Linked DNA regions of Homo sapiens. The protein of the gene in region 1 purifies or fractionates together with the protein of each later gene. This does not show direct contact. Each region holds a gene or a part of one and is shown on either strand. Other genes may lie near its edges.

Region 1 (7,478 bases):
GCACCAGGAGGGGCACCAGGCAGAGATGTGGGTCCATTCCAGCTGCCCCGCCTGCCAGCTCAGACGCTCCCTCCCGGGCAGCCCCCGCTCCTTGAGGGATGGTCGCCCTGGCTGTTCATGTCCTGGGGAGGGGCCCCATGGAGCCATCGCCACCTCCCTGACTCAGGCTGCCCCGCGCCGGCCCCCAGGTGAGCGTGGCCGCCCGCATGGCACAGAAGATGTCGTTTGGCTTCTACAAGTACAGCAACATGGAGTTTGTGCGCATGAAGGGCCCCCAGGGCAAGGGCCACGCCGAGATGGCGGTCAGCCGAGTGTCTACAGGTGACACATCCCCCTGTGGGACTGAAGAGGACTCCAGCCCAGCTTCGCCCATGCACGAGCGGGTAAGGGCTGCACAGCTGGGGGCGGGGGCTCCCATCCGTCAAGTTCACTTTCCACCGTCTCCCCCGTGCTCACGGCCCCCTGGGGACATAGGTGTTGTCATCCCCAACCACCAGTGCGCAGGCCGAGGTGCCGAGCGTGCGGAGGCCCGGACCACCCAGCCCTTCTCTTTGCCTAGCGGTTTGTAGGAGGCACTGCCGCAGGGGAGGCGTTCCTGCCTTGCAGACCTGGAGGGCTGTGCCTGGCCAAGGTCACACCGCAGGCTGGTGCTGGGCCAGAGCTCTTTCTGCCTCCCTGAGATGCCACAAAGCCAGGCTGAGTCCACAGAGCCAGTGGGCAGAAGAGACTGGCTGGGGACCCAGGCCCGGCCCTGGCGCCTGCCTGGGTGGACCTGCTGGGTGAGCGTGGGCACGTGGCCGGCCTTCCCCGGTGAGTCAGATGGGGATGATGGTGACTGAGGGTCAGCCAGCGCATGCAGAGGCCTAGGCCACCCAGCTCTTTGCCCCGCGGTTTGTAGGAGGTTCTGCTGCAGGAGAGGCGTTCCTGCCTCGCACAGCCGGAAACCAGACTTGCCAGCTTGCCCCAGGTCACAAGGTCTCTTGGGATAGCACTGGGCTTGGGGCCCTGCTCTGCCTAGGCCACTCTCCTTCCCCAGGGCGGGAGGCTGAGGTCAGCAGCAGCTTTGTTCCCAGAAGCCTTTGGTGGGGCACAGGCAGGAGAAGGTCTCCAGCCCACTGGCTGCTTTGCTCTACCTGGTTCTTCCAGAGGGACTGCCCAGAGCTGTAGTTCTTGGAAGAGTACAGGTGTGCTGGGCAGGGGGGTGCCCTTGGCACAGGTCCAGGGGCAGTCTTGCCCAGCCATTGTCCAGGAGAGACGCCACCCACAGCCAGAATCCTGCTCTGCTGCTCTCATAACCTTGGGTGTGTCTCTTTTCCTCTCCAAGCCTCAGTTTTCTCATCTAGAAACAGGGCACGAGGATACCTGCTCCTTCAGTATTTGGGAGGCTTTGAGGAATCCGGGGCTTGGCCCTCAGGAGGATTCCCAGGTGGCAGCTGCAGTAGTTGCTGTTGACCTACTTGGAAAGCAGAGGCGTGGGAATGTAAACGATGCATTACCGCAGGCATGCCTGAGATGAGGGAGTGTGCGTTTGTTATACTTTTAGTTCGAGAAAGATCTGAATCATGCATATCTCCGGGTGGTCAGATGTTGGTTTTCTTTCTCTTCTGTATATCTTTTTTTGGGGGGGAGGTATCTTCTGCAATGAATGTGTTTTGCAAGCCAAAGACAGCAAGTGCTATTTTTTGCAAAGATGGGTGAGAATTCCAGGCAGGGGCCTCTCTTGTCTTTGGAATGAGGTGGTTTATATTTCTGAGTTTGTTTCCGAGATAAAGGGCCTGGTTCTTCTCCCTGGTCCTAAATTATGCCCTGGGACTCTGACAAAATGTGTGTGTGAAAGTCCTTACGAAGATGTGGCCCGAGCTCTGGGCTGGACAAACCCGGGTGCCACCTCCAGCCACAGCCTGAGGGCTGAGTGACTACAGGTCACTAGACCTGCCTGAGCCTTGGTTTTCCCATCTGTCCAGCGGGAGTGGCTGTGAGGGGTGTGAAAGTCCCTGGTGCCTTAGCAGCTGGGCAGCCCTGGGATTCAGGAGGAGGGATGTGCTAGGGTCACACAGGGTCAGCAGCAGGGCTGGCCCCTGGGGACTGCCGCCTGTGCGCCTGCTATTACCTGTCTCCTTCTCTGGCGGGGTCGTCTGGAGCCAGTGCGTGACACATGCTGACTCTGTGTATTGTGGTTGCTGCTGTTTGTTTCTTTTATCTTTTAAAAACCTTCCCCGGCTTGTGGGAACACCGTCTGGAGCCCAGCAGCTGCCAGGACTTTGGTGGATGTCGGAGCCGTGACGAGGAGGCTGACGGGGCTCCCGAAGTCTCAGTCCCAGCTCATCCTGCTCCTCAGATTATTGTTGGCATGGGGAGGAGGGAGGAGATGGGCCAAGTTCCCTCTGGCTGGAACGCCCTTCCCCCCCTTCTTCACCTGGCGAACTCCTACTCGTCCTTCAAGACCCAGCTCCAGCGGCATCTCCTCCAGGAAGCCTTCCCTGATTTCCCAGGCTGTGGATCCCTTTTGCCTCTGTGCTTCATGTATCCTGTGCTTCTCTTTCTCTGTCTCCACAGCCAGCATGCTGTCTATGGTTGTCACTCTCTGAGTCTGTCACCCCAGCAGACTGTGAGCTCCTTGAGGGCAGGGACCTGCAATGTGCCTGTCTGTCCTTAGTGCTGTGCCTGCCTGGCCCTGAGTGGGTGTGAATGTTTGGTGAACAGAACCAAACGTGATTAGAAGTGGGGAGAAGACAGAGGCATAGAGCTACTTAGCACAGTATTTCCTGTGAAGGGTGCTGGGAATGAGAGGGATGGGGCCACGTCAGCCCTGAGAAGTAGGATGAGGAGCGTGGCCCTGGGGGACAGAAGACAGGGCTGCTGCCGTCCTGCTTGGTGACCACAGGCAAGCCAGGGTCTCGGTCCCTGCCTTAGTTTCCCCATGTGTCAGATGGGCTGACGCTAGCCCCTGTCTCACGGAGCTGGAGGCTCAGAGGGTCTGTGTGTGGGGCCAGTGCTCACTCAGCGTCAGCAGCTGTTGTTACTTTGTGCTTGAACACCCCCTACCCACTGTTTGAGGCCCAGAGGAGGGGGGTCTTTCTGCCATTTGCGGCAGCAGCCTGGCCCCTCCTCGGGTAGCACTGGTGGCCAGGTGTCCTGCTGGCCCCTGGGCTGGAACGCATCTTCCAGTCTCTAGGCCCCACCTAGCACGGGCCGGCTGGGCCTGGGTCCTCCTGGGCCAGCGGCCTCTTCCCTGGGAGCTGTGTCAGGTTGTTTGAGGGTGGGATAGGAGGGGCGTTGGGACCCCCGGGGAGGGGGCTGTTCTGCTACTCTGGTGACTTTGGCTGCTTGTTCCCAGGTGACCTCCTTCAGCACACCCCCCACCCCAGAACGGAACAACCGGCCTGCCTTCTTCTCCCCATCCCTCAAGAGGAAGGTGCCCCGGAACCGGATCGCTGAGATGAAGAAGTCGCACTCGGCCAACGACAGCGAGGAGTTCTTCCGGGAGGACGACGGTGGAGGTGACCCCCCACTCCGTGCCCTAGGGTCCCCGTGCCCTTCAGTCTCTTCTTGATCCAGACCAGTCATTCATTCATTTATTCATTCATTCATTTGTTCATTCAGCAGCACTTAGAGAGTGGGTGCCATGTGCCAGGCAGCCCTCCAGGAGCTGAGGGGTAGAGCTGGGGACAGGCAGAAATGGCTGCCTCTGGGGGTCCCGTCCTGGTGGGCTCAGGCGTCTCCTTGGCAGAGTGCTTGGAGCGCAGATGTGCAGCAGTTGGTCAGTTTCAGGGGATTTCCCACCTTTCTAAGGCTTTTCAGCCTGCTTAAGGAAGAAAGCGGATGGGTGATCTGATGGCTCCGCACACACGGGGTGTGGCGGGAGAGAGGAGGGCTTCCCTCCCTTGCGCTGCCTTGGGCCAGCTCGCCCTCAGGGTGAGGCCTGGCCCTCCTGGCTCTGTGCAGCCTCCCAGAACCACGTGCTCTTTGGTGACACAGTCGCCACCTCGTGCAGCCTACCCCCGGGGCCTTCCTGTGCCCCTGTCCCCTGGACTCCGGTTGTCTGTATCTGGGTGTTACCATGCCCCTTAGTCCTGCCCAGGCACAGTCTGCACTCTCTCCTGAGCACCCGTGCCTGCTCCCTGTCCTCGCTCAGTGACCTTCCAGAATACAGGAGTTGTTCCCAGAGCCCCCAGGGAGGCCTCTGAGGGGTTTTAAGCAAGGGAGTGACACAATCAGATTAGCATATTTAAAATGCCACTCAGCAGTCTCTGTGGGAAATGGCTCCTGGGGACAGGCGTGGCCGTCACAGACAGGTTGGGAAGTTCTGCCATGCTCTGCTGGCATGGACCACGTGCCTTCCTCACTGTCATCCTCAGGACCCAGCGGGCGCCTGGCTCCGCACTGTGTGCGTGTCTGTTGAGTGTATGGAAGTGAAGGATTGGCCAGGCACAGTGGCTCACCCCTGTAATTCCAGCACTTAGCGAGACCGAGGCGGGTGGATCACCTGAGGTCAGGAGTTCGAGACCAGCCTGGCCAACATGGTGAAACCCTGTCTCTACTAAAAATACAAAAAATTAGCCGGGCATGGTGGTGGGCGCCTGTAATCCCAGCTACTCAGGAGGCTGAGGCAGGAGAATCTCTTGAACCTGGGAGGCAGAGGTTGCGGTGAGCCGAGATCGTGCCACTGCACTCGAGCCTGGGCAAGAGTGAGATTCCATCTCAAAACAAACAAAAAAAAACGACGTGAAGGATTCGCTGACAACTCCCACTGAGCACCTCCCCCAGCAGGGAGCAGGGCTGCAGCATTGATCAGAAGAGGTGGCAGTCTTTGTCCTGACCACTGGGACCAAGAAGCAGGGGTGTCCCACCTGCTCAAGGCCCTGGCCTGGGTCAGGGACTCCAGCACTGGCCTCGACCTGCTCTTGTGTGAACTTGGGCAAGCCCCTTCCCCACCTGGGCCCGTTCCCGAATCAGTAAGAAGTACTGATCACTGCCCTAGTCTGCCTCTCTGGGGCAGGTTCCCCCAGCCTGGACCGCAGGACTGGGTAATGGTGCAGGTCGGCTCAGCCTTGCTGCTCCCATGCTCTGCAGGTGGCGGTGCCTAGTTCCAGGGACAGGGCCTGCAGAAGCAGAGAATTACACAGTGTGTGTGCCAGAACCCCCGGAGGAGACTAAGCTTGTGACAGAGAAGAGAGAGATGAGGGGGGTGGCCAAAGTCTTCCTGGAGTTGGAGGCCTGGGTCTGGGCCAGAGGAAGCAGGGAGGGGTGTTACAGGCGAGGAGGCAGCAGCTCTGGAGCGTGTGGGTGCTGGTGTGGGGGTGTTGGTAAGGAGCGTCCTGGCCTCAGCAGAGTTTGGCCTCAGCCTGGACTGGGAGCTGGCCTCCTGCTGCTCCCGCCGCGTCCCATGCTGTGGGGGCCTTGACCTGGCCTTCTTTCCTCCAGCCGATCTGCACAATGCAACCAACCTGCGGTCTCGGTCCCTGTCGGGCACAGGACGGTCCCTGGTCGGGTCCTGGCTGAAGCTGAACAGAGCAGATGGAAACTTCCTTCTCTATGCACACTTAACCTACGTCACGTTGCCGCTGCATCGGATTTTAACAGGTAATGCTGGCGGATGTGGGGAAGCAGCCGCACCTTCTCACAGCCAGCTCTGCCTCCAGGGCCTTGGTACTTGTGAGCCACCCGGAGTCATCCCGCCCTGTCCTGTCGGTTGGTTGGGTTTCTTTGCAGGGCTCTTGGCCTCTTTGTCTCAGACTTTGGGTGGAGCCGTAGCTTTCCCAGAGCTGAAGTCCTCCCTTTGTTCACCTTTCTGGCGCACCTGCTGTCCCCTCTTGAGTGGCCACAGATGCCCAGGTGTGTGTTACTCACGGGCGAGGGGAGGCTCTCAGGCCACCTCGCTGACCCAGGCCTGCAGCAGCTGTGACAGGCAGTGGCTCTGGCCCCCACACCAGCTTGCACCTGAGGCCCTGCAGGGTGTGCCGTTGCTGCGAGCCCATTTCCCAGTCTGCAGGGTGAGGATGGTGGAGACACGTCTCCTCTGCAGTCTGTGAGGCCTGGAGAGGAGATGCATGAGTGGCTGAGGCGGGCTTCCTTCAGAAGTGGCACTGCCGTGACCATAGCACTCACCGCTGTTGAGGGTTACTGTTTCACCTGCTTCCCTCCTGCCGGCCCTAGACATCCTGGAAGTTCGGCAGAAGCCCATCCTGATGACCTAGCCGCGTGCGGAGCCTGCGCAGAGCCCCGGCCGGGCCCAGCCCTCGGAGTGCTGCCAAGTGCCTACCTGTCCACCGCCACCGGGGTCTGCGATGGCACGCCAGTGCTGGAGCCGCAGCCAGGCGAGGCCACTCGACTCCCGGGGCCGGGGCCGACTCCACGAACACCAGCCCAAACTGAAGTGCCTCTTCCCTCCCCTGCTGGCGCTGCTCCGCCCTGTGCCCCCCGCCCATCGCCCCCCACCCATCTCTGGAGAGCCCTCTGCACCCAAAGAGGACTAGAGATGCCGAGCGGCCATGAGAGAGAGCGGAAGGAGCAGCTGATGCCCAGAGCGGGGCCAGAGCGGCGGGTCTATGTTCACGTCCCCCCAGCAGCAGGCGGAACCACCCAGCCAGGGCACTCAGTGCATTGGACTGTCCACATGTTCTTGAGGAAAGCCGGTGGAAGATTCTGGAATGCCGTGCGGATGAACTTCAGCACCCGAGTCAGTCCCAGCTCATCCTCCCCAGTTTACCACTTTGTTCTAATAGGAGATGGGAACACGAGAAGTTTGATGGCTTTGCCCTGGGCTGGGAATACCTCACCCACGCCCAGTTCCAGAAAGGCCTCCAGCTGAGCAGACGGCCCCGATCCCGCCAGAACGGCCTTTTGCTTCCAGCCAAAGAACACCGCCAACACGCACACCTCCAACCTGGGACATCCCACGCTGGGCCTCGCACGGAGGAACCTGCAGAATTTGGATTCTGAGGGTAGTCGGGAGGCCTCGGTAGCCAGGCAGAACAGGATATCTGCCAAAGGGTGTCTGATGTGGGGTGGGGCTGGCATCCTCCCAGGAAGGTTCTAGGTGGGACCCCGTCTTCTGGGGGCGGGGGTGTCTTTTCATCTTCCCTGGTTTCCTAGAACTCACTTCCTTTGACGGCGTGTGTTGGTCCCATCTCTCAGACCAGCTCACTGAGGCAGAGGAGTTGCTCAGAGGCTCACATGGGCACCCCCATTGGTTCGTGTGAGCAGCTGCCCAGCCCCAGGCCTGCCCTCGGCCTGGTCCAGCATGAAGGCGTTTCCATCTGCAAGGATGCACGGTACCCTCCCCGAGAGCAGGCCTGTCCCCTACCCAACTGGGAATAAACTGGAAGCTGGGTCTCTTTGTTGCTATGTTTTTTTGTTTGAAGTTCCCAGGAATATTTGAGGGGTTCCGGTGATGTGTTTAGGGATCTTCTCTGTGGGGGAAAAGGAAGAGGAGGGTCTTGTTCTCCCATCTGTTTATTCTTTGGGCTCTGGGAACA
Region 2 (7,478 bases), on another chromosome or scaffold:
CACAAACTTAACATCTAAGAAGAAAGAACCCTATAATCTATATGTGCATGAGAAATAGCAGGGTAAACTCCTAAATTCTAAGGAAAAAAAATTTCCTAATTCCATTCATTGCAATAGTCTAGAAATTATGACAAGATTAGTACCAATGAGGATCCTGGTGCCCAAACTATAGTTTCTAAATATTATTCCCCACTAAAAGGAAGCAGAATGCTTTGGAGGAATGGTCATTTCCAGGTCTGGGGCAGGAAATGTACAAGATGACCCTTAAACATTTTGTAGTACCAGAAAGCAAGAAAACTATCAAGAAATAATGCCAGAAGAATTCAGAAACCTGAAGAAGTTCCCATTTGTGAAAGAACAATCTGAGCATCCATAAAAATAAACCAAGAGAATGATGCCAGCAAGATGGCTGCTAGACACACCTGGCATTCATCCTCCGAAAAGAAAGGACCAAGGCAATGAATAAACAGCTAAGATTTGACTGGAGTGTCAAAGGGAGAGCACTAGAGTGCAGCAGGGGAGTGGAGATGCACCTGTGGTGACTGCAAGTCTAGGAGAGCAGTGTGGAGGTACCCGGCCTCTGCAGCCCTATCTCCCCCACCCAGACTGGATCTGCCCACAGTCAGGAAGAACTTCTCATTGCAGAGGGGAAAAGGTAAACAGAAGATCCCCATCAGCCCTCATGGCCACCACAAACATCTACAGTCCTTACAACAGAAGAATCCCATAGTACTTGCAAGCCCTGTGTCCAGTTTGGAGAGACGTCAGAAGTTCACGCAACGGCACTGACCCAGATTAGGAGCATAAGGTGTGTGCCCTCCACCTACCGCCAGTGAGCCAAGCTGCTGCAGCACAAGCACTATCTTGAGACCAGTCACCTCTGGCATGCGCACTGCTCTGGGGGCCAGGAGTCACTGTACCTCTCCAACACTGGGGACCCGTCTTCATTCCAAGCCTACATGGGTAGCTGAATGCTACAATCCCAGCTATGCAGAGCCTAGGACCATGACTGGCTATGACTTTGGTCCTGCATGGCAGGGAAATCAACCCCTACCATCACACTTTTGGTCAGAGAAACAATCTGGCAGTCTTGCCCAGGGTGAACCTGCCCTTGAGCCAGCCAAACCACTACATACATACCCTCCCCCAAATGGGAGAGGTCTCCAAGCCTACGAGCAGCTGATATGCCCCCAGGCCAGCAAAGCAGCTACATGCCCACACTCAGGACCTCAGAAACAGCGTGCAGCGCCCCTGCTCCCTGCACTCAGAGTTCTGGCCTGCCAAAGGCCCTGCGCCTGCAATCAACGCCTGAGAAATAGTCCTTCGAGCCGCCCCTGGCAGCACACCACCAGGCCAGCCAAGCAGCCAAGAGCCCACTTCCACGGCCCTGTGGGCTATCCCTGGTGGACACATCCCAGCCTGGTCAAACAGCCCTGCAGGCTGCTCCCAGTGTGCACACCCCTTAGCCAGCTGAACAGCCTTGCACCAGTCTCAGACCTGAGAAATAGCCCCATGAGCCCCTAACAGAAACGCCCCCATGCCAGCTGAGCAGCCTTATGCCCACACCTCAGGCCTGAGGAGCAGCCTCACTGCCACCCCAGCTAACATAGTACCAGACCAGCTGAGCAGCCCTGCACCTGCATCACAGGTATACAAATAACCCATGGGCAACACCTGCAGAAACACCCCCAGGCCAGCTGAGCAGCCATGCAATCGTGTCATGGGCCTGAGAAATAGCCTTATCCCCACCCCTAACAGACAAAACCCCAGGCCAGCTGAGTAGCCGTGAGGCCACATATGAGCCCTGTGGGCTGCTTCTGGCAGGCACACCTCCAGGCTGGCCAAGTGACCATGTACCCACACTCCTGGCCAGAGTAACAGACCTGTGGCCCCAATCCCAGCCAACCAGACCCTAAGCTGGCTGACCCATTGTGTGCACATATGCACCCCAACCTGAAAAACTGCCCAGCGAGCCCACCTGGCAAAGCTACATGGCCATCACCGCAAACTCTTTCAGCCTAGGCAACTGAGAGGATTGCAAATGCCACTAATGTGGATTACAGGTGAAGAAGCTACATGGAGACTACACTACTGTATCCATCTAACCAATGCACTCCACCAAACCAACACCTCAGGACCTATTCATAGTAACAAGTCTTTCCCTATGAAACCTACTCCATAAAATTAGAAGAGGCAACTTTTTCTGCCAGATACATAGAAATCAATGTAGAAACACACCAACCATGAGAAAGCAAGGAAATATGACACCAAAGGAAAAGAATGGAAAGGAAAATACTAATTCTCCAGTAACAGACCTTAGTCACAAGGAAACATGAAATGCCAGAAAAATAATTCTTAAGGAAATCATAGTCTTAAGGAAACTCATTCAGATACAAAAGAATACAGATATACAACTAAATGAAATCAGGCAAAGAATACATGATGTGAATTTGAAATTCACCAAGGAGATAGATATCATACAAAAGAACCAAACAGAAATACTAGAGCTAAAAAATTCAATGAATGAAATAAAAAATATAATCAAGAGCTTCAACAACAGACTAGATCGAGCAGAAGAAAGAATTTCTGAACTTGAAAACAGGTCTTTTGAAATAACTCAGGCAAACCAAAAAAAAAAAAAAAAAGGAAGAAGGAGGAACAGAAAAAAAAGAATGAAGAAAGCCTACAGGATTTATGGGACACTATTAAGTAAACAAATATTCATATTATGGGCATTCCAGAAGAAGAAGAAAAGGGAAAAGGTGAGGAAAACACATTTAATAAAGTAACAGCCCAAAATTCCCAAGTCTTGGGAAAGAGATAGGCATCTAGGTCCAGGGTGTTCAAATACTCCCAAATAGATTCAACCTAAAAAGATCCTCTCCAAGGCACATGGTCAAGTTGTCAAAAGTCAAAGACAAGGATCTCCTCATTTTTATTCCCAAAAGGTAGCCAGTGACCAATGACCAGTATTTCATTTCTTATGATTTGTTTCAGGAAACAACCAAAGGAAATGGAGGAGGCAGACATAACATGTGTGCACATTCAGGTGCATGTTTGTACAACATACATATGCCAAATGCAACAAGAACCACACTGCTGTGCATCTTACTTTTTTTCACTTAAAAATACAGCACATATTAACATATGTATCTACCTCAATTTTTAATGACACACTGTTTCTATATGTGGATATATTAAAACGTATTTAACTATTCTATTGACAAAAACTTAAAATGTTCCATTCCTTTCAAATTATTGAAAACAATGCTGATAAATATCCTTTAAGTGCTTGTAATATCTAAATTATTTAGGATAACAAGGAAAAAAGAAAATTTACCACAGAGGCATAAAGTTTTTCCAGGCCCATGTGACAAACCAATACGTGTAACAGCCAAAATTTCCATTTAAAAAAAATGGCTATATGATTATGTAAAAAGAGCTACAGAATGTGGCAAACATTTTGTATGCTTGTTAAATATATACGTAATTAGAATAGGATGGTAATCCTATCTAATCCTTTAGACACACAAGAAATTTTAATAATAAATTCTCAAAGTTGAAAAGCAAATCTGGTAATGATTTTTCTTAATCTAAGTGAACATTAGTTCAGAAAGTATCTCTTCCTTTAAAAAAGAAAAAAAAGAAATCCACAAAACGTCCTACCTTGATGTTCATCATCCTCCTTTGGTGTTTGTTCCAGTAATGTGTCCAAGGCTCGGGTGTAATCTTTCATTACCCAATAGGCAAGACTACGCAGGAAAGGATCAGGATGTAATCTTTTGCAACTGAATCCTGAGCCATCCTTTTGGCAACCCAAAATCTTCTGATTTAGGATGGATATATAAGTGGATGAAGTCTCAAATTCAGATTCATATAAACGGGCAATAACCATGGCTAGCTGAATATCTTCCATTTTTTCAAGACATACCTGCAAATTTAAATATTAATACTTATCTTACTTAATGATAATTATTTAGAGAGATGAAATATCCCATCAATACCCTGAAATTATCTACCATTTATATCCTAATGGTGGGCGAAGGGACAGTGAAGGGTAGTTAAATGATTGATAGGAGATTAAAGAATAGCAAAAAGAGTAACAGGTTGGAACCCAGTAGCTTCCAAACTAGACAGATCATTTATAAAATAAGCATGAAACAAAGTATATTAATATCATCTCAGACTTAAGATCAACTTAAATAACATTCATTTTTAAATTAAATACTATATATGACACTAGAATTTATATACCACTTCCTCTTAATTTCCAAACATATTTCTGCATAATCATAATTATTACTATCTGCCTCATATTTAAATAGTAAATAAATTATGAAATACAGCCATATGTTCTATTCATAGTCTCTGGGAGCCTGTATTCTAATGCAACTACCAGTTCTGAGCATTTGAGGTCATTTAGGCAATATGAGCATCTCTCAGTCAACACTTCTCTTTGCTTGAATATCTTCTAAGCTAAACTTCCAATTTTAAAATCTTAAGTATTTGTTATTTAAAAAAAGAAACTCATATGCCTGGGATAATTGTAAAAAAAAACCCAACTAATTCTAAATTTAAAATACTAAAGTACTTTCACTTAATTGAATATTTCCTGTTTTTCTATCATATATTATTCCCAACTGTATTTGTCCTTTACCTGTTCATATTGTTCATGATAGTAATCTAAGAGGAAGATATCAGAAGTAAACACAAACATTTGTAATTACTCTCATAATCAGCTGCTAGGATTACATATCAAAAAGTGGGAAGTTTTACCTCCTCACATCGTTTTCTAATATAATATTCTAATATTATAAACTATTATAAAACAGTACAAACTGGAGTTTCAGTTCCTTATTTATGAATTTCATTTAAAAAAACAGCTTAATGTATCTGCCTTTCTGCACAGAATAAGGAGGTTGTGACCTATGTACTTTAAACAGTTCAGAATCACAAGATGGTCTGGAAGAAGACATTCATAAACTATTTTTCAGCATTTTTTTCATATATTTTACACATAGTCTTGAAATGCAATGTGCCATATATGAAATTTTTCTTTTTTTCTTTTTGAGATGGAGTCTCACTCTGTCGCCCAGGCTGGAGTGTAGTGGCACAATCTCACCTCACTGCAACCTCCGCCTCTCGGGTTCAAGTGATTCTCTTGCCTCAGCCTCCCGAGTAGCTGGGACTATAGGTATGTGCCACCACACCTGGCTAATTTTTGTATTTTTAGTAGAGATAGAGTTTTGCTATGTTGGCCAGGCTGGTCTTGAACTCCTGACCTCAGGTGATCTACCTTCCCTGGCCTCCCAAAGAGCTGGGATTACAGGCGTGAGCCACCATGCCCAGCCTGAAATTTTTCATTTGTTTCTCCCTTGAATTTATTCATATTTTCCTTTACCACAGTGCCACTATTTTAAGTACAGCAACCTCTGTAGTTATTCTGTGTCCTAACAAACATATGACCAAAAGTTACAATCTCCTCTACAACCTTCTTAGGTTTTCAATCTTTTACAAGTATTATATAGTGTGTTTTCTTATTTATACCTCTATGGCATCTTTCAATGAACCAGCTAGCAAGAAAAAAGCAGCCGATTGTTCAAAGCGTTGTTTTCCAAGTAAGGAAAAAGCATTTTTCAAAGCAGCTTTTCGCCATCTATCTTCATTAAAGTTGTGGCTGAAAAATGTTGTCATTTTTTCATCATGCTGTGACCTGGGGACCGAGCATAAACATAAAGTGGTTAAACCAAATTTAAAATGTTCTACAGAATGTATAATAATATAAAATAAAAACCTCAAACAGAAATCTAAAAGAAGAACAATAACTTCAAGGACAGGCATTTGTTATCAAGCATCTCTTCACTTCTTCTAAGAAGGAAGGTCAATAATGCCTTATGTATACATAAATAGGAAACAGCATTTTTTACTTTGCAAAGTGCTTTTATCAACTTTTAAAACATCCCATCCTCTAGATTAAGCTGAAAAGATATTTTACCCATTTTTTTCAGCTAAAGGAACCAGGTCGCATAGAAGTGGATTTGATGAAGCTCATATACCTAATTATTTTCAAAAGCATTAGGTTTCTTACTCACAGCACAATCTTCATTCTGTTGAATCACGTTAAGTGTCAAGGCAACTTACCTAAACAGACCCCACACTACTGCTTTCTTCTTCATTGAAAGGTAGAATAGTGCAGCATCTAAGGCATCATTGTTCCTTTGAAAAGAAGCTTTGGCAACCTAAATGATAAATAAAATATTAAATTCACAATTTGACATAAGAATTACAATCAATTAATCAACAATAATGTTCCCCTGCTACTTCCATGGCTGATAGAAACTGTGGAGACAGAAAAAGTTGGTTCTGTTTCACAATCTCCAGTAGGTTATAATATTAATACATGCTCCTAGAGATAACCATTCGCAAGCCAGTAATTATGGTAAAAATCCTAATTACAGCCAGCACTTATTGACTATTTACCACGTCCTGGGCACGAGTCTATGCACCTTTTGTTATCTTATTGCATCACTACAAACCATGAGGCACTATCATTATTCCCATTTTATAGATAAAGTGACTGAGACAGAAAGGTTAAGTGAATTGCCTACAGTCACACAGTAAGGGTTAGAAAAGGGAATAGAAACCACGTAGAACTGAAACTAACATAGAAAGCAATAAAGAAGGCAGAATATTCAATAGATGTGAGCTTTTTCTTGAAAATTCAACATGTTATATTGTATGCAATCATACTGTCTTAAACATAAGAGCATATAGGCCATACCTTATTTTTCCAAGATGCTGAGATATAGCCTCTGCAAATCATTAAGTTGAAAGGCATAATGACAAAACAACAGTGGATGTTTTATTAATTAGCTCACATTGATGGCAAAGCAGGAAGCTATAATACTAAGGTATGGGAGAAAGGGAAAAGACATCTAAAATTACATCATGAAAATGCTTTACTCTCGGGCCGGACGCAGTGGTTCATGCCTGTAATCCCAGCATTTTGGGAGGCCGAGACAGGCAGATCACTTGAGGTCAGGAGTTCGAGGGCAGTCTGGCCAACGTGGTGAAACCCCGTCTCTACTAATACTACAAAAATTAGCCAGGCATGGTGGCGCACGCCTGTAGTCCCAGCTACTTGGAGGCTGGTTGGGAGAATTGCTTCAACCCAGGAAGAGGAGGTTGCAGTGAGCCGAAATCACACCATTGCAATCCAGCCTGGGCGACAGTGCAAGACTCTGTCTCAAAGAAAAAAAAAAGAAAGAAAGAAAGAAAAAGAAAAAAGAAAATGCTTTACTCTCAATACTCTTTTCCCTTCCCCCTTTTAATTGTGTTGTCTGCCCCCTATCATTTAACTTAGTGCTTCAATATGTTAGATAATTTTTAGAGGAATTTTATTTGTATTCAGCTGATTTATAATATACATTTTGAGGCAGAAAATGTACATATCCCTTTGATTTAATTTTAAGAAATAA
Region 3 (8,024 bases), on another chromosome or scaffold:
GATGATTATAATAAACTACCAAATAATGCTTTTACAGATAATATTATGTCAGTTTATCAGCATTATGTTGATTATCATTCATACATTTCCAGTCTGGAATGTAGTAGCTACAAGAATCAAAAAGCAAAACCATAATAAAGCTAGTCTTCCTAGTTTGTGCTTGCCTCCCAAATTAAAAAAAAAGTTGTTATGTGCCAAAAATGTAAAACTTATTTCAAGAAAATTAACAGGCTACACGGGTAAATTTTGGCAAATGCAACTTTATATTGAAGTTCACACATCTGTATCTTAAAGAATGAGACTCACAGACTCTAATGTATTTCTAAAATACCAGAAATCATAATATAAGCTTTCACAAGTTAAAACTGAAATAATTTAAATTACCAATACACTGAATGTGCAGAAAGTATAAACAAGACTGTGCCTTCAGTAGAATAAATGCTTCACAAATTGTGCAGGATGTCATACTAAGGCTGTGGTCTCCCCTTGACAGCTGACTTAAAATATAAACATACATCAACTGCCTGCTTCTTAGAACAGTTTAGAAAGGGTAGCACACCGTAGAAGAAAATCTCATTATTTCAGTGATGTGCACTTTAAGTTTCAAACCATGTGAGAAAAAAGGAAAAAGTAATAAATGATCTTCCATGCACTTTTAGATGCATGACCATGACCAGTTACTGATTTGATTTCCCTTGGCTATTTGCTCCAGTGCTAAATAAGATGAAGGATACTAGATAACCCTTTAAGGCAACATGTATTTATTCTGCATTATTAGAACTGCTCAGTTGTGACAGGCTGGTACCATTAATGTTGCCTCCCAGACCAATATCTAGCATTTGTAAAATATAAATGAATTGGAAAAACTTTATACCAAATCAACAAAAACCACATAATACAGTTCAATGCTAGCAATCTTACTAGTAGATGAGGAAAGTGGTATTTAGAAATAGCAATGTATTAATACAAAAAAAGTAAACTCTAATTGGAACCAATATACTGCTTTGGAATGCTCCCCAGAACTTACAAGGCGGTTTTTAAAGTGTGATATTCCAATAATTCATTGGCACGTCTTTAGTGGATTACAGTACTTTAAGTCCCCAAATATTTTAGTCTTTGCAAAACAATAGTAGTATGAAATGTTTTAAAGTCTTCAAACTTCTAAAATTAGTTTTTATCAACACATTTACCTCATGTCAACTTAATTTATTAAGATGTCCAATGCTAATTGTTTTTTGATGTTTTTTCATATGTAGTGACATACAGAGCATTTAGCACTGATACTTAGCACCTGCTACTTTCATTATCTAGTTTTTGACCACATAAAGAAACTTAGGGCAGTGGTTCAGTCCCTTCTTAATTACAAACCTTTGCTGGCAGTCAGCAGGATCACTCTGAGATTTAAAATAGGATTATAGGTGAACTATTGCAAAGACTGCAGAATGTTGCCCAAATCCTTAAAACTGCTGATTCCATTCTTGAATTTCTTCTCAAAATATGGCTATGGGCCACAATTGCTCAGCAGAGAAGGTTAGTTTTCACAAGGCTAAAGATTTACAGATGCTCCCTCATATAACACAGTAAGGTTCCCTTGGTAACCTGGATTTTCTGCAGTAAAGAAGGGTTGTGCTGAAACAGCGCCTCAGCTCCCTGTTTGAGAAAATGCAGACAAAAGGATTGATTCCTGCTTGGGCAAAACTCATCCAGACAGCAGCTGTTAGAAATCCCCCTGGTACTACAGGCCCTCTTGCAAAAACTCTCCAATAACAGGCCACCAGGTAGGGGCCCCACAAGGTTAGAAACAGAAAAGTCATTATATAGAACATTCTGCTGATTCTTTTCTCCATTTTGAACTCGTCTAAGACCAATAGCCTTCTTCTGCCTGTGGTGTTTGCATTTTGCCTGATGCCCAGCAAGGTGGGTGGTGTGGGACCCCTTCCAAATCCTGCTAGCCAATTGGCAGCTGCCTGGCCACTGGCTCCAGGACCATGAAAAGTCCAGTTCTGGCTGACTGCTGCTACAAACTGGACTGGCTTCATTTTTCTTCGATCGTGGACGAAAAATATCAGCTTGAGGTAGACAAGCTGTGTGGCTAGGAGGATGAGAGCAAGAAGCAGCATAAATCCTAAGGAATCATTAGCCCTGAAGGAGCGGTGTTGGAAGGTGCATTGATCTTCCTCCCTAATGAATGAGTAAGTGCCCACGTCTAAAACCGGGGGAAATGCCATGGCCACAGACAGAGTCCACACCATACAGATCACAGCCAGACACGTCCAAAAGGTCAGCCTCTTTGTATAGAAGCGGTGATGGGCGATAGCTAAATATCTGGTGACACTGATGCAGAAGAGCATGAAAGCAGTGTGGAAACAGGACAAAACCCCCAGAAAGGCAATCACTTTGCAAGTCAGAGTCCCATAAGTCCAGGTAGAACCATTTTTGACAGAGTTGAACACAAATGGGAAACAAATTGCAGATCTGAGGATATCTGAACAGCAAAGATCCAACAGGAAGTAGTAAGGTGCTCTATGCAAGGTCTTATCTTTCACTAGCAAAATGGAGATCAGGAGGTTGCCCACCACGCTGACTCCTATTATGAAACCCAAGGAAGTCAGTTTCAGAAAGGCTGTTAGAGGCGAGAGATTTTGCAAAATGTTGTCAGCTGCATGGCTATAGTTCGCCATAGATGGATGGAGGATAAGGATACAGCCTCAGTCAAGTCTCATGATCTAGATATAAGAACAAGGAAAAGATAGATCCATACATTTTACTGAAAATATAATCCACAAAGAGAACTGATCTGATCTGCAGTCATGCTTCCTCTTTTCTTCCACTTGTTTTGCCATCAGAATATCTGAAAAAAAAAAAAAAAAAAACCTATCAGTTCTTAAGTTAACAAGCAATGATGTCAGACAGTGCTAACAAAGCTGTTCACTTATGGGGAAGCAAATAAAGTTTTAATTTTGAATACTAATATTTGCTTTACTAAATATTTTTGCTCGAGATTTCAGAGAATTGGCTTGTTTAGTTTTTCAAGCTAAGTGAATTTTAAAATGTCCCTATTTTGGACAATATACATTTGATAGGGTAACTTTAGGAGAGAAGGAATAAAATGTCCCATTCTTGTAAAATATGCCAGTCCAGGAATTAACCACTAGAATTGCAATGGAATCTACAAGATTGCTATTAGGAGGCAGAGACACTACCTACATTTATTTGAGATCTATTAGTATCTGTCAGTGTTTCACAGGCAGCTTCTCTGTTTGATGTGGGTCCAAAGAACCCGTGCAAAATATATCTTAAGTGCCACTATTCATGCTGCATAAGAGTATTTGTTGATTCATCTTAAAGCAAAATTTCAAAATTAACTTCAAAATTAATAGGAACTTACTTGTCCCAAGATTTGATGTGATTTAATCATTTGTCTTTCCCTCTCCACCCTACCCCCCATTTCTGGCAAATCTTTTAAGCCCACATGATTATTAAAATGGTTAATGTAAATATTGGACAGGGAAACACACCCAGAGGAATAATGCACTTCCATTTGTAAACCTTGGCTGCCTGGATTCAAATGAATATAACATGAACCTGTATTTCTTGGGCAATTAAGCCTTTCCCATTTACACTGATAACCTTTGTTGCAAATCACAAGTGGCTGCTTTTTAAAACAAAATGCACATTGTCTCGCAGGTGCCTGGACCACACCAGGGAAATCGGCTTCCTCTGTTATTCCCACCAAGCGTGTTTCTTTTGCCACTTCTCACTGGCCCGGAATATGCTGGTGGAAGCCCAGGCAAAACTGCGTTCGATGATTTTAATTTCCCCACCGGTACATCCTCGGGTAAATACCGATCGCATCATGCAACATTACGAAACCTGAAATCCGCCACCCCTGGATTTATAATGGGGGGAGGGTGGAGGAGGGGGAGAGGGAGAGAGACATGCATTACATACGCGAAGATGGGGAGAGAGATTGCTTCTGTGCTGCAAAGGAACCGTTCCCGGTGATTCGCAGTCTGATATTCCTCAGTCTTGTAAGGCTTTCCAGAAATGGAGCTCTCAGTAAGCCCTACTGAAGATGCATTGTCTGAATGTACTTCCATTATGCAGTTTATTGTCACAAAACACATACACACACACACACACACACACACACAGAGACACACACACACACACACACACACACAACCTGAGGGAGGGCTCTTTCTCGGTGAACCTGCAGTTTCATCAACACTGTGCATTCCCCCACATCCCCCAAACTTAACCAAGAGTATATCCTCCTACCTGTTGGTGTTGGATATCCCGACAGACTATAGCTTCTTTCTATAAATTGCTGATTTTTTTCTTTTTTTCTTTTTCTTTTTTTTTTTTTTTTTTTTGTTTTTTGTTTTTTTTTTTTTTTTTTTTGCCTTAGTGCCTTGACTGAGCATCCAGGCAGGGCTCGGCGGCGCCTGCGCGCTGGAGCCTCCTTGAGCTCCAGCCGCGTCCTCCCCTGTCGCAGCGGCACCGTCTCCCCCAGTAACGCAGGGGCCGCGGCGGCGGCGGCTGCGGTGGCGAGGGCGGCGGCGGGGCTGCTTCAGCCTCTGTGGAACCAGCAGGAACCCCTACCTGACTCCAGAGCTGGCTGGGTTTATTGACTGCCCTGTCCAATCCAACTGGCAGCATTAAGCTTTTGTCCCTTCGTGGCTGCTTCTGAACTTTTCCCTCCCCGCATTTGTAGTGGGGGGCTGGAAAGGCCCTTTCAGGACCTCAGGCCCATCCTCTTCCCAAAGGCAGCGCACGAGGAAGTCACAGTGCCCGTGACGCCCGCCCCCTCCCTCAGCTTCCCGGAACCCTAACCTTCCCCAGACACTTTCTTCCCTTTTCTTTTAGGGTGGTCCAAACCACCGGAGGCTTCTTTTATATATTTATTTTTAAGTGATGTCTCCAGCTAACCTTTAAATTTGCAGGTTAGCTGGAAAAAGACAAGAAAAGAATGGGAAAAAAGAAAAAAAGTTATTTATTTATTTATTTATCTTTTTCCCACAGTTAAAAATCTTTTCAATGGGGAAGAAGGGAAGGCACGTTAGGGCAGCTCTCTCTTTGTTAGTCATCTTCTATTCTCCAATGCACGCAAATATGCGTAAAAGTAGGGAGAAAGCTAAGTTCAGAGGACAACTACAATATGATTTACATTCAGTCTACCTTAAAGGATGTCACTAAAGAATCAGGCTTATAAAATGTTTAAATGGCTATTCCTGGCATTCCACCCCACCAAGCAACAGTATTCCTTTTCCCTTCTTACAAGTTCCGCTGACCAATGATGGGTGATGTCAAAGCAGTTATGTGTACGAGTTTCCTTTTTTCCCCTTTGTTATTACAGATGAAAAATACTAGAAATATAACAAATACGTAAAACTTACACCAGTCCAAACGGTCGGATGATACCACAGACACCACAAAGCCTGACACGTGGGTGCTTAGGAATGCCTCTAGAATCATGCATTTTCTTATTTTACCATTTCCGAAGAGTTTTGTTTGTGGAGGTGATATAAAATTTTAAGCAACAACTTCCCAGTTCTCCTACCCAAAACTAGCAGACACGCTTTCATTAATTCCCAATGTAAAACGTCTGCTTCTTTTTCTGCATGCTTTTTGCTTTATAATAATCTGTTAATGAAACAAAAAATAAAAATCTTCTCTACAGTAATAATCTGATCTTGAGACAGCAGTAAAATACCTCATTGCTGGGTGGTGAGATTGTGACATTCAGGGGAACTCAGGCCAATCAGCATACAGATAATATGGGTTAATTTACATACTGTATTTCTATTGGATGAGCCGAGGTAAAGCCTTATCTTGATGTCACAGTCGTTACACAAAGCCCTATGTTGGTAATACTGAAATGATGTTAAATTTCCCTGATTTGTTCTTGAATTTCCTACGTCCATTTAAATACATGGATAATAGTTTGTTTTTTTCGAAAAGAATATACACAAGGCACTAAACTTTGGCATTCCCTTAACCTAGAAAAATCAATCCTACAGCCATGCTGGAAGTAACTTGAGGGCATTTCCATTCAAATAAAACATTCCACTTTTTGCAAAGCAAATGAATTCAAAACTCAAAACCATGTGGTGGTTTGCAACTTCTAAGTAAAATGTCAAATTCGTTTTTATGAAACTACAAATCACTTCAACTTGTGCTTTTTTGCTTCCCAATAAATGCTTCAATGTACTTTGCAAAGAGTTATTTCCTGAATTTTTACAGTTTTAAAAAATGTATGGAATAAGAGGCTTAAGTTTGCTGAAGATTCATGATTGGTCAGATGTTAGGTTGTACAGATTAGGGAAAAGCTATTTTAAAGTAAATTAAAAGAGTCACTGCACTGCCAGGCCATGAAGCAGTAATATACTCTGCCAAAAGTTATAGGGCCAAGATCCAAGGGTTTTAACTAGTCTTATTCTTTAAGCAGATATTGATTCCTTAAAAATAAGGGAGAGGGTATATGTGTATGCAATATTCTTTCATATCCACATCTCAGGGTATAGTAAAGCTATTTTTTTCCTTTGCAGTTGAGCACAGTTACATCCACTAATTCTTCAGCTTTTCCAGCTGTTGGATAAGAATGTCATTTTCTTGCCTCACAAGGGGACTCAAGAAATTAATGAGATATTTTCTATCTAGCTCATTAACTCTACTGGAGAAAACATTGGAAGCTACATCTTTCATCAGCAGGGCTTTAAAAAATATGTTTAATAGCTGACAAAAGTTTCATATCATCTACAAGTTCTCAAATGTAAAGTTATTGCTTCAAATTGTTTAGATCATAGGCTTAGTTGGTCTTAACTAATTTCTTTTTTTTTTATCCCCTACATCACCAAACCCAGAAAATTTGATTTTCAGGTTAAGAGTAAAAGAACAAAGCAAATACAACAAAACTATATGCTCTAATCCTTGGGTTTGAAGGGTTCTGAAGATTTACAAACTGTTGGAATATTACATGTACTATATTGATCAGTGTATTAGGAAAACTGATATAATTTGCTTAATTTGGTTCTTATAAAAAGTACATACCATTTTATTTTAAAAACCAATGACCTTGCTTTCAAAATTAATCTATTTCAGATTTTTGCCAACTGATGCATAGTATCATGATCAGCAAAAACAGTGTTTTTTTCTGTGCATTGTTTACATGAAAGTGTGTGTCAGGAAATAACACTTGGTAATTGCAGAGAATAATAGACTAGAATAAACATTCTAAATAAAAGATTTTTAGTAATTCATTTCAAATGACATGTCTTCTGCTTAAAGCATAAAACGTGTGTCTTTGGTGCTCTCAACTGTTACCAAAATTTAAAGTTGTATATGAAAAAGAGCCTTTTTAAAGTTTTCTTTAAAACTTTAACTATCTTTTTGATGGGGTTGTTTGTTTTTTTCTTGTAAATTTGTTTGAGCTCATTGTAGATTCTGGATATTAGCCCTTTGTCAGATGAGTAGGTTGCGAAAATTTTCTCCCATTTTGTAGGTTGCCTGTTCACTCTGATGGTAGTGTCTTTTGCTGTGCAGAAGCTCTTTAGTTTAACTAGATCCCATTTGTCAATTTTGGCTTTTGTTGCCATTGCTTTTGGTGTTTTAGACATGAAGTCCTTGCCCATGCCTATGTCCTGAATGGTATTGCCTAGGTTTTCTTCTAGGGTTTTTATGGTTTTCGGTCTAACGTTTAAGTCTTTAATCCATCTTGAATTAATTTTTGTATAAGGTGTAAGGAAGGGATCCAGTTTCAGCTTTCTACATATGGCTGGTCAGTTTTCCCAGCACCATTTATTAAATAGAGAATCCTTTTCCCATTGCTTGTTTTTCTTAGGTTTGTCAAAGATCAGATAGTTGTAGATATGCGGCGTTATTTCTGAGGCGTCTGTTCTGTTCCATTGATCTATATCTCTGTTTTGGTACCAGTACCATGCTGTTTTGGTTACTGTAGCCTTGTAGTATAGTTTGAAGTCAGGTAGCTTGATGCCTCCAACTTTGTTCTTTCGGCTTAGGAT
Region 4 (6,911 bases), on another chromosome or scaffold:
CAAGCAATCCTCCTGCCTCACCCTCCTAAAGTGCTGGGATTACAGGTGTTAAGCCAGGGTGCCCCGCTGAAACAAACTATTTTTAAGCGTTTAGTGGAAAGGCACAAAACGTTTTGTCGAAAATGATTAAAATCTATGTCATCATTAAATATTAATTGTACTTAATTGTAACATTTTAAGGGAAATGTTATGAATGACACTAGGCTATGATAACCTAGTTCATCTTCTTGCCATTTTTCCATATATGAAACTTCAGAACCAATCATTAGAAGATCACTAAGAAAAAAAAAATCGCCAAGACTCTTAGTGGAGATTTAATCTTCCATAAAACCAAACTCAATGCATTTTAGAACTAATGTGGCCTCTCAAAAATAATCTTATTAATGTATCATTCCAAAACCTGCTTTGATTTATCCCTGTGAAGGAAACATATGGCCTCTCTCTGGAGAGACATACACATAAGCATGTTGGCAAATGATGGTGTCACTCAAACACTCAATAGTGCCTTCTGCTGGTGCAGAAGTGTTTTTTTTTTTTTAACAAATTCGATTTGAAAATACTTTTCTTATAAACTGAAAAATAGAAGTAATCTTGTCTTTTTCATTCTTTAAGTACCAACAGGGGCAAATTTAGAGACTAACTTGTATATTTCTTCAAATTCCAAGTAGCTCATATTATCCTTGCTGGAATTCATATTTATGATAGTCAAAATGTTTAAAAAGTATTACCTATTTTGGTAAGACAATTATAAATGTTTATTGTTGGGTAAAATATACAAAATAGAGCAAGGCGTAGTGGTGCAAGCTTGTAGTCCCAGCTACTTGGGAGGCTGAAGCAGGAGGATTGCTTGAGCCTAGGAGTTCGAGTCCAGCCTGGGCAACATAGCAAGACCCTGCCTCTAGAAAAATAAGTTTTAAAAAATCCAATTCACTTAAATGTGGTTTTATTGATGGACAGTTTCTTCCCAGAAAAGCAAAAGCAGTCCTAAAATATCCATGAATCCTTGACTTGTTAATGGTTCCTACCAAAGGAATATTACCTAGTCTTTATATAGAAAATCATTTTGACATAGATGTGCATTTTCATTAAAATTTTAATATTACTATTTTAATATACTTAATGTATTGCTTCTGAAAATGTAACCTACCACTGAATTTGATCATCTATCTATATTCTCCCCACAAAAACTAAATTGACTTCCTGGTACACATTGAACATCACACACAAATGTTTAAAATACTAAATATCACACACAAATGTTTGAAATATTGACTTTATTAGGAAAACATTTGATAGTTCTATTCGGTCATATAATCAATCACCTAATTTTAAAACTATGTGGCCAGAGGACATCAATTACAATATGGATTTTTCATTCATTCAACGAATATTTGAGCACCTACAAGTGCCAGACATTGGAGGTACAGGGTAAACAGGAGGATCCTTGCTCTCACGGAGCTTACATTCTAGCAGGAGGACAATATTAATGTTTATAGGAAAATGATGAGTTTATGACAAAGGAAGTAGATAGTGTTTTACAAGAGCATAGAGTAGGGAAGCTAATCCAGCACAGGGAGGTCACAGAGACATCCCTAAGGAAGTGGAGTTTAAACTGAGAGAAGCAAGTGCTTAAACTGAAGGATGTGTTGAAGAAGAAGGGAGAGTAGAACAATTTGGGCAGAGGGAACCTTATAGACCCTAAGGTGGGAAGGTTCAAAGAACTGAAAGAGAGCTAGAACAGCTGGAGCCGTTCTCCGGTGTAAAGAGGAGTCAAAGAGATAAGATTAAAGATGTGAAGATTAAGATCTTGGTGGCATTCAGGGATTGGCACTTCTACAAGAAATCACTGAAGGGAGTAATCTGACATTACTTTTCACTTCAGGATGGCCATTCTAACTCCAGGGGGTAGACTGGACTAGGTAAGACTGGAGGCAGGTAGACCTCTTCTAAGGCCTGCGATAGTGAAAGACAAAAATAAGTGGGGAAATTCAGGGGATAGTGAAAATCAGTAGGACTTAATGAGCAAGCCAGAGGTTCCTCCACAACAACCAGTACAGATGTCCAGTAGACCTACTGGATATGCAGGCCTGCAGCTCAGGGGAGAGCTGGGTTAAGAACCGTCAAGGCAGTAATCATCTGCATTTAGATGGCGAGTGAAGCCATGACAGGGGCTGAAATGGCCCAGCAAGAATAAATCAAACCATGAGAAACACATACATTTAAGAATAAGGAGATGTGGTCAGGCGCGGTGGCTCACACCTGTAATCCCAGCACTTTGGGAGGCCGAGGCGGGTGGATCACTTGAGGTCAGTAGTTTGAGACCAGCCTGGGCAACCTAGTGAAATCCCGTCTCTGCTAAAAATACAGAACTTAGCTGGGTGTGGTGGTGCGTGCCTATAGTCCCAGCTGCTTGGGAGGCTGAGGCACAAGAATCGCTTGAACCCGGGAGGTGGAAGCTGCAGTGAGCCGAGATCACACCACCGCACTCCAGCCTGGGCAACAGAGAAACACCCTGTCTCAAAAAAAAAATAATAATAAGGAGATGTCATGGGCTCGGGGGAGGGGGAAATGGGGAGCGCTGTTGTTTGAATGGTATAGTTTCAGTTTGGGACTGAGAACAAATTCTGGAGATGAATGGTGGTGATGGCTGCACAGCAGTGTGAGGGCACTTTATGCCACTGAAGTAACAGATGCCTTTCAAAAATAAGCCCGCTAAAATATCACCAAGCATAACCAGCAAAACAATCATTTCAGTGAAAATACAACTTTATATTAATCATCTCAATAATACAGATTACAGAACTGAGTTTACAGATTACAGAACTTTTCATACTTTGTGGGTCAGAAAGGATAACCGTAAATTACTGTCTCCGCTTTATGGGTGGTAAAACTGAGCCACAGAGAAATTTCTCTAAGAAAATTTAAAAGGAATTGATGTTCATTAAATAAATATCCTCACTGATTTTTTTAAGGTAGAAAAGTACAATGCACAGTGTTAAAAAAATTACTGTAACAGCCTCATGTTCGAGAAGTCTAAAATTTTAAGGCTACTACATGTGTTAATTTTCAGTACATGTCCAACAGAAAACATCCTTTATTCCAGTTACATCCTGAAGATACCGAAGTCAGTCTTCTCTATTGGTGCGTTGAGGGCTGCACTAAAACTGAGACCCAAGACCAGTCTGGTGTCTGCTGGATCAATGATCCCATCATCCCATACCCTGACAAAAGAACAAAAAAAGAGTTATGAATTTACCACCAAACTACCATTTATACACTCTCCATGTGCAGAAATGCCAAGGAAGTTTTCCTTCAGGTAATATATGGATCTACTGATTAGCATCCATGTACCATAATCTCACAACAGAAACTACGTTCAAGACAGAGGGGGAAAACGTGGAAAAAAATGATATGACCTTCATCCCAGGCCACCACAGAATGTCATGTCAGGCTTAAGGCTTAAGGAACTACTTTTATAAGAGATCTCAAAGTAACCCCTAATTTGACAATACGTTTACTTATTTCAGGAAAAATTTTCCTATTCCTTTTCTTCCCACACAAATATATAAGCCAAGTTGGTGTATTCTGTCATTAATATGCAGAACCACATATACCCAGGTAATAACCTCAAACTTTACTGGAAAATGTATATTCCCCAACCCCCATCCAAACTCTTAAGAAACTATGAAAATTATTGAATAGGCTTCAGTACATTTTATCTTATTTATTATTATTATTATTTTTGAGATGGAGTCTCGCTCTGTCACCCAGGCTGGAGTGCAGTGCAGTGGCACGATCTCAGTTCACTGCAATCTCCGCCCTCTGGGTTCAAGCAATTCTCCTGCCTCAGCCTCCCTAGCAGCTGGTATTACAGGAGTGCGCTACCACACTTGGCTAATTTTTGTATTTGTAGAAGAGACGGGGTTTCGCCATGTTGGCCAGGCCAGTTTTGAACTCCTGACCTCAGGTGATCCGCCCACCTCAGCCTCCCAAAGTGCTGCGATTACAGGCGTGAGCCACCACACCCGGCCAGCTTCAGTACATTTTATTAATAAAATAGATACCTTCAAATGTAGGTCTTTATTTTTTGCTACAATAGGAAAAACAATAACTTTAAACTGCTTGCAGAAGAAACTTTTAAGTAGAAATTTTAGTTTCCTTCTCATTGACAACCTCAAATGTATAACGAAAAATGACTGAGAAATATTACTTTTTAAAGGTTATTAGTAGGTGGCAGTTTGCTTTTTTTATATAAACTCCCTTCGGTATCTGAACCTGGCATCAACTATTAAACCATTCTTACATTGACAGACATGAATCAAACCTTTGCTCATAAAACATTCATAATAGGGACCCTAAAGTATCAACACCCAATAAAAAGAAAGCCACTCTTGTCATCTGCAACCAGGTGAATTGATTACACTCCCTCTGAAGCCTGCAGCACAGCAAGCATGGTGATGAAGGGGCTGCTTAATAATGTTCATTAAAAAGACTGCCCCAGGTAAGAGGCACTAATGAAATGCCGGATAAAAGTTTGATTATAAAAACAACTGAGCAGAAGCAAATTGGCACGCTACATATGTAACCTATTAGGATTAAGGAAAACATTGTAGGTTTCAGTAACTGATAATAACAAGCTCTGTCTCTGAAAAGACAGATCTAGCCATGTTCAAACCTAAGCAGGCCAGGGAATTTTACTGTGAAGCTGAGATTTACTAAACCCAAGGAAGGTACCATAAACTGGCTTGGAAATCCTTTCAGCTTTGAAAGAAAGCTGCTGTCTCCATGCCACCAGCTGTTTCAACAGAAGGGTTAAACATCTACAGATCTGGCCAGGTGCAGTGGCTCATGCCTGTAATCCCAGTACTTTGGGAAGCCGAGGCGGGTGGATCACCTGAGGTTGGGAGTTCGAGACAAGCCTGACCAACATGGAGAAACCCCATCTCTATTAAAAATACAAAATTAGCCAGGCGTGGTGGCACACGCCTGTAATCCCAGCTACTCGGGAGGCTGAGGCAGGAGAATCCCTTGAACCCAGGAGGCGGAAGTTGCAGTGAGCCGAGATCATGCCATTGCACTCCAGCCTGGGCAACAAGAAACTCTGTCTCAAAAAAAAAAAAAAAAAATCTACAGATCCACAGAAAACTTTACTGTCTGTTAACATTTATTTCCAAAGATAAGTCTCTCTGGGCCATTTACTCTTCTGCCTTGAATGTAATCCATTAAAAAATAATAATAATGTTAGTATGAAAATAATAAAAGATGCAATCTTTCTCAAGAGATGATTTATCTTAGCCAGGGCTGAAAAACAAGCTAACAGCTCACACAAAATACACAATTTTTCAAACTTTAATATTTCAGCTGTCCCTGTGTATTTCAGTCAAAATCTTATGTGGAAAAAAAAAACTATAGAAAAGCTTAACAATATATATTTTATATTTCATCTCAAACCTCTTATACGGCTTTCTATTGCTTCTTTCCATTTACTGGCTACTATATGTCTGTTTACACGATGATAAAATCAGGAACATGTTTAGCTCTCAAAGACTATAAAATATTTTGTTCTTAATTAAATGAATCAAACCACCACAATAAAATATACCTGTAAATTTGTTTGTAAAAATATATATTCAGCAAAAAACCTTTAAAAATTCCCAAATATTGGCCAGCCACGATTACAGGTGGCTCACGCCTGTAATCCAAGCACTTTGGGAGGCCGAGGCAGGATCACTTGAGCTCAGGCATTCAAGACCAGCCTGGCCAACATGGTGAAACCCCATCTCTACAAAAAATACAAAAAAATTAGCCAGGTGTGGTGGCACATGTCTGTAGTCCCAGCTTTGGAGGCCGACGCAAGAGGATTGCTTGAGTCCGGGAGGCAGAGATTGCAGTGAGCTGAGATCACGTCACTGCACTCCAAACTGGGCAACAGAGTGAGACTCTGTCTTTAAAGAAAACAAAAACAAAAACACATACACACACCCAAATGGTATTATTTATCTCCTCAAACTAATTATGTTCTTGAAAATCAGTATGTTTTGTCTTTGTATCCACCAAGGAACCATTCAAATGATTGTAATGGACTCTAACTTTTGCTTTTTTTTTTTTTTTTTGAGATAGGGCCTTGTTCTGTCACCCAGGTTGGAGCACAGTGGCATGATCTCGGCTCACTGCAGCCTTGACCTCCCAGGTTCAACTGATCTGCTTGCCTCAGCCTTCTGAGTAGCTGGGACTACAGGTGCACACCATCACGCCTGGCTAATTTTTGTATATTTTTTGTAGAGACTGGGTCTCACCATGTTGCCCCGCTAGTTTCGAACTCCTGGGCTCAAGCAATCTGCCCGCCCTGGCCTCTCAAAATGCTGGGATTATAAGTGTGAGCCACTGTGCCTGGCCTGATTTTCTTTTCTCTCCCCTCTCCTCTCCAGTTTGCCTTCGCCAGCATAAATTACAACATAAGCTAATTTTACAAGATGCAGAAAGAGTTACTTTCTTTTTTCCATCTGCCCAAGGGATGAAAGGAAGACATGAAGCTTAGATTAGTCTTCGGAATGCAGAACACTAAAGTTGTTGAAGAAAGATGTGAAAGCAGGCACCAGCAGGTCTTCAGCTGGGACAGGCATGATAATTTATTACCTCATTAAGTGGTGTAAGAAAAAAACCGAGCCAACAGCGGCAATGGTCTGTGAGGTAATTATTTGGCGCCGACACACAGACCCTGGCAGTGACTAATCACCTTTCAAACGTACAAGCATACTTGTCAACAAATGCCAGTAAGTGTTCAACCAATCTCATGTTTAAAATGGGGTAAAAACAAAATGATCAAGGAGAGGGGTTTTTAAGCAAAAATTAGAACTTCTGAAGTAACACAGCCAAGCTTATAACTTATTCTCGGCTCCTAACATGGCCCA

The links.
Region 2: the proteins of KIAA0930 (region 1) and DMXL2 purify together in Homo sapiens (co-immunoprecipitation; one large-scale study listed by IntAct). This does not show direct contact.
Region 3: the proteins of KIAA0930 (region 1) and GPR85 purify together in Homo sapiens (co-immunoprecipitation; one large-scale study listed by IntAct). This does not show direct contact.
Region 4: the proteins of KIAA0930 (region 1) and MCCC2 purify together in Homo sapiens (co-immunoprecipitation; one large-scale study listed by IntAct). This does not show direct contact.

What each region holds. Positions count from the first base shown.
Region 1 is NC_000022.11:45,195,895-45,203,372, reverse strand, and holds part of KIAA0930 (uncharacterized protein KIAA0930), read left to right. Parts: intron 1-188; coding exon 189-383; intron 384-2,353; exon of another isoform or gene 2,354-2,419; intron 2,420-3,337; coding exon 3,338-3,500; intron 3,501-5,424; coding exon 5,425-5,583; intron 5,584-6,156; coding exon 6,157-6,197; 3' UTR 6,198-7,478.
Region 2 is NC_000015.10:51,482,407-51,489,884, forward strand, and holds part of DMXL2 (dmX-like protein 2), read right to left. Parts: intron 6,240-7,478; coding exon 6,142-6,239; intron 5,714-6,141; coding exon 5,548-5,713; intron 3,932-5,547; coding exon 3,667-3,931; intron 1-3,666. UniProt on the Homo sapiens protein: May serve as a scaffold protein for MADD and RAB3GA on synaptic vesicles. Plays a role in the brain as a key controller of neuronal and endocrine homeostatic processes.
Region 3 is NC_000007.14:113,082,041-113,090,064, forward strand, and holds GPR85 (probable G-protein coupled receptor 85), read right to left. Parts: upstream 4,788-8,024; 5' UTR 4,282-4,787; intron 4,128-4,281; exon of another isoform or gene 4,070-4,127; 5' UTR 3,952-4,069; intron 2,852-3,951; 5' UTR 2,682-2,851; coding exon 1,569-2,681; 3' UTR 245-1,568; downstream 1-244. UniProt on the Homo sapiens protein: Orphan receptor.
Region 4 is NC_000005.10:71,653,053-71,659,963, reverse strand, and holds the end of MCCC2 (methylcrotonoyl-CoA carboxylase beta chain, mitochondrial isoform 1 precursor), read right to left. Parts: intron 3,222-6,911; coding exon 3,104-3,221; 3' UTR 1,258-3,103; downstream 1-1,257. UniProt on the Homo sapiens protein: Carboxyltransferase subunit of the 3-methylcrotonyl-CoA carboxylase, an enzyme that catalyzes the conversion of 3-methylcrotonyl-CoA to 3-methylglutaconyl-CoA, a critical step for leucine and isovaleric acid catabolism.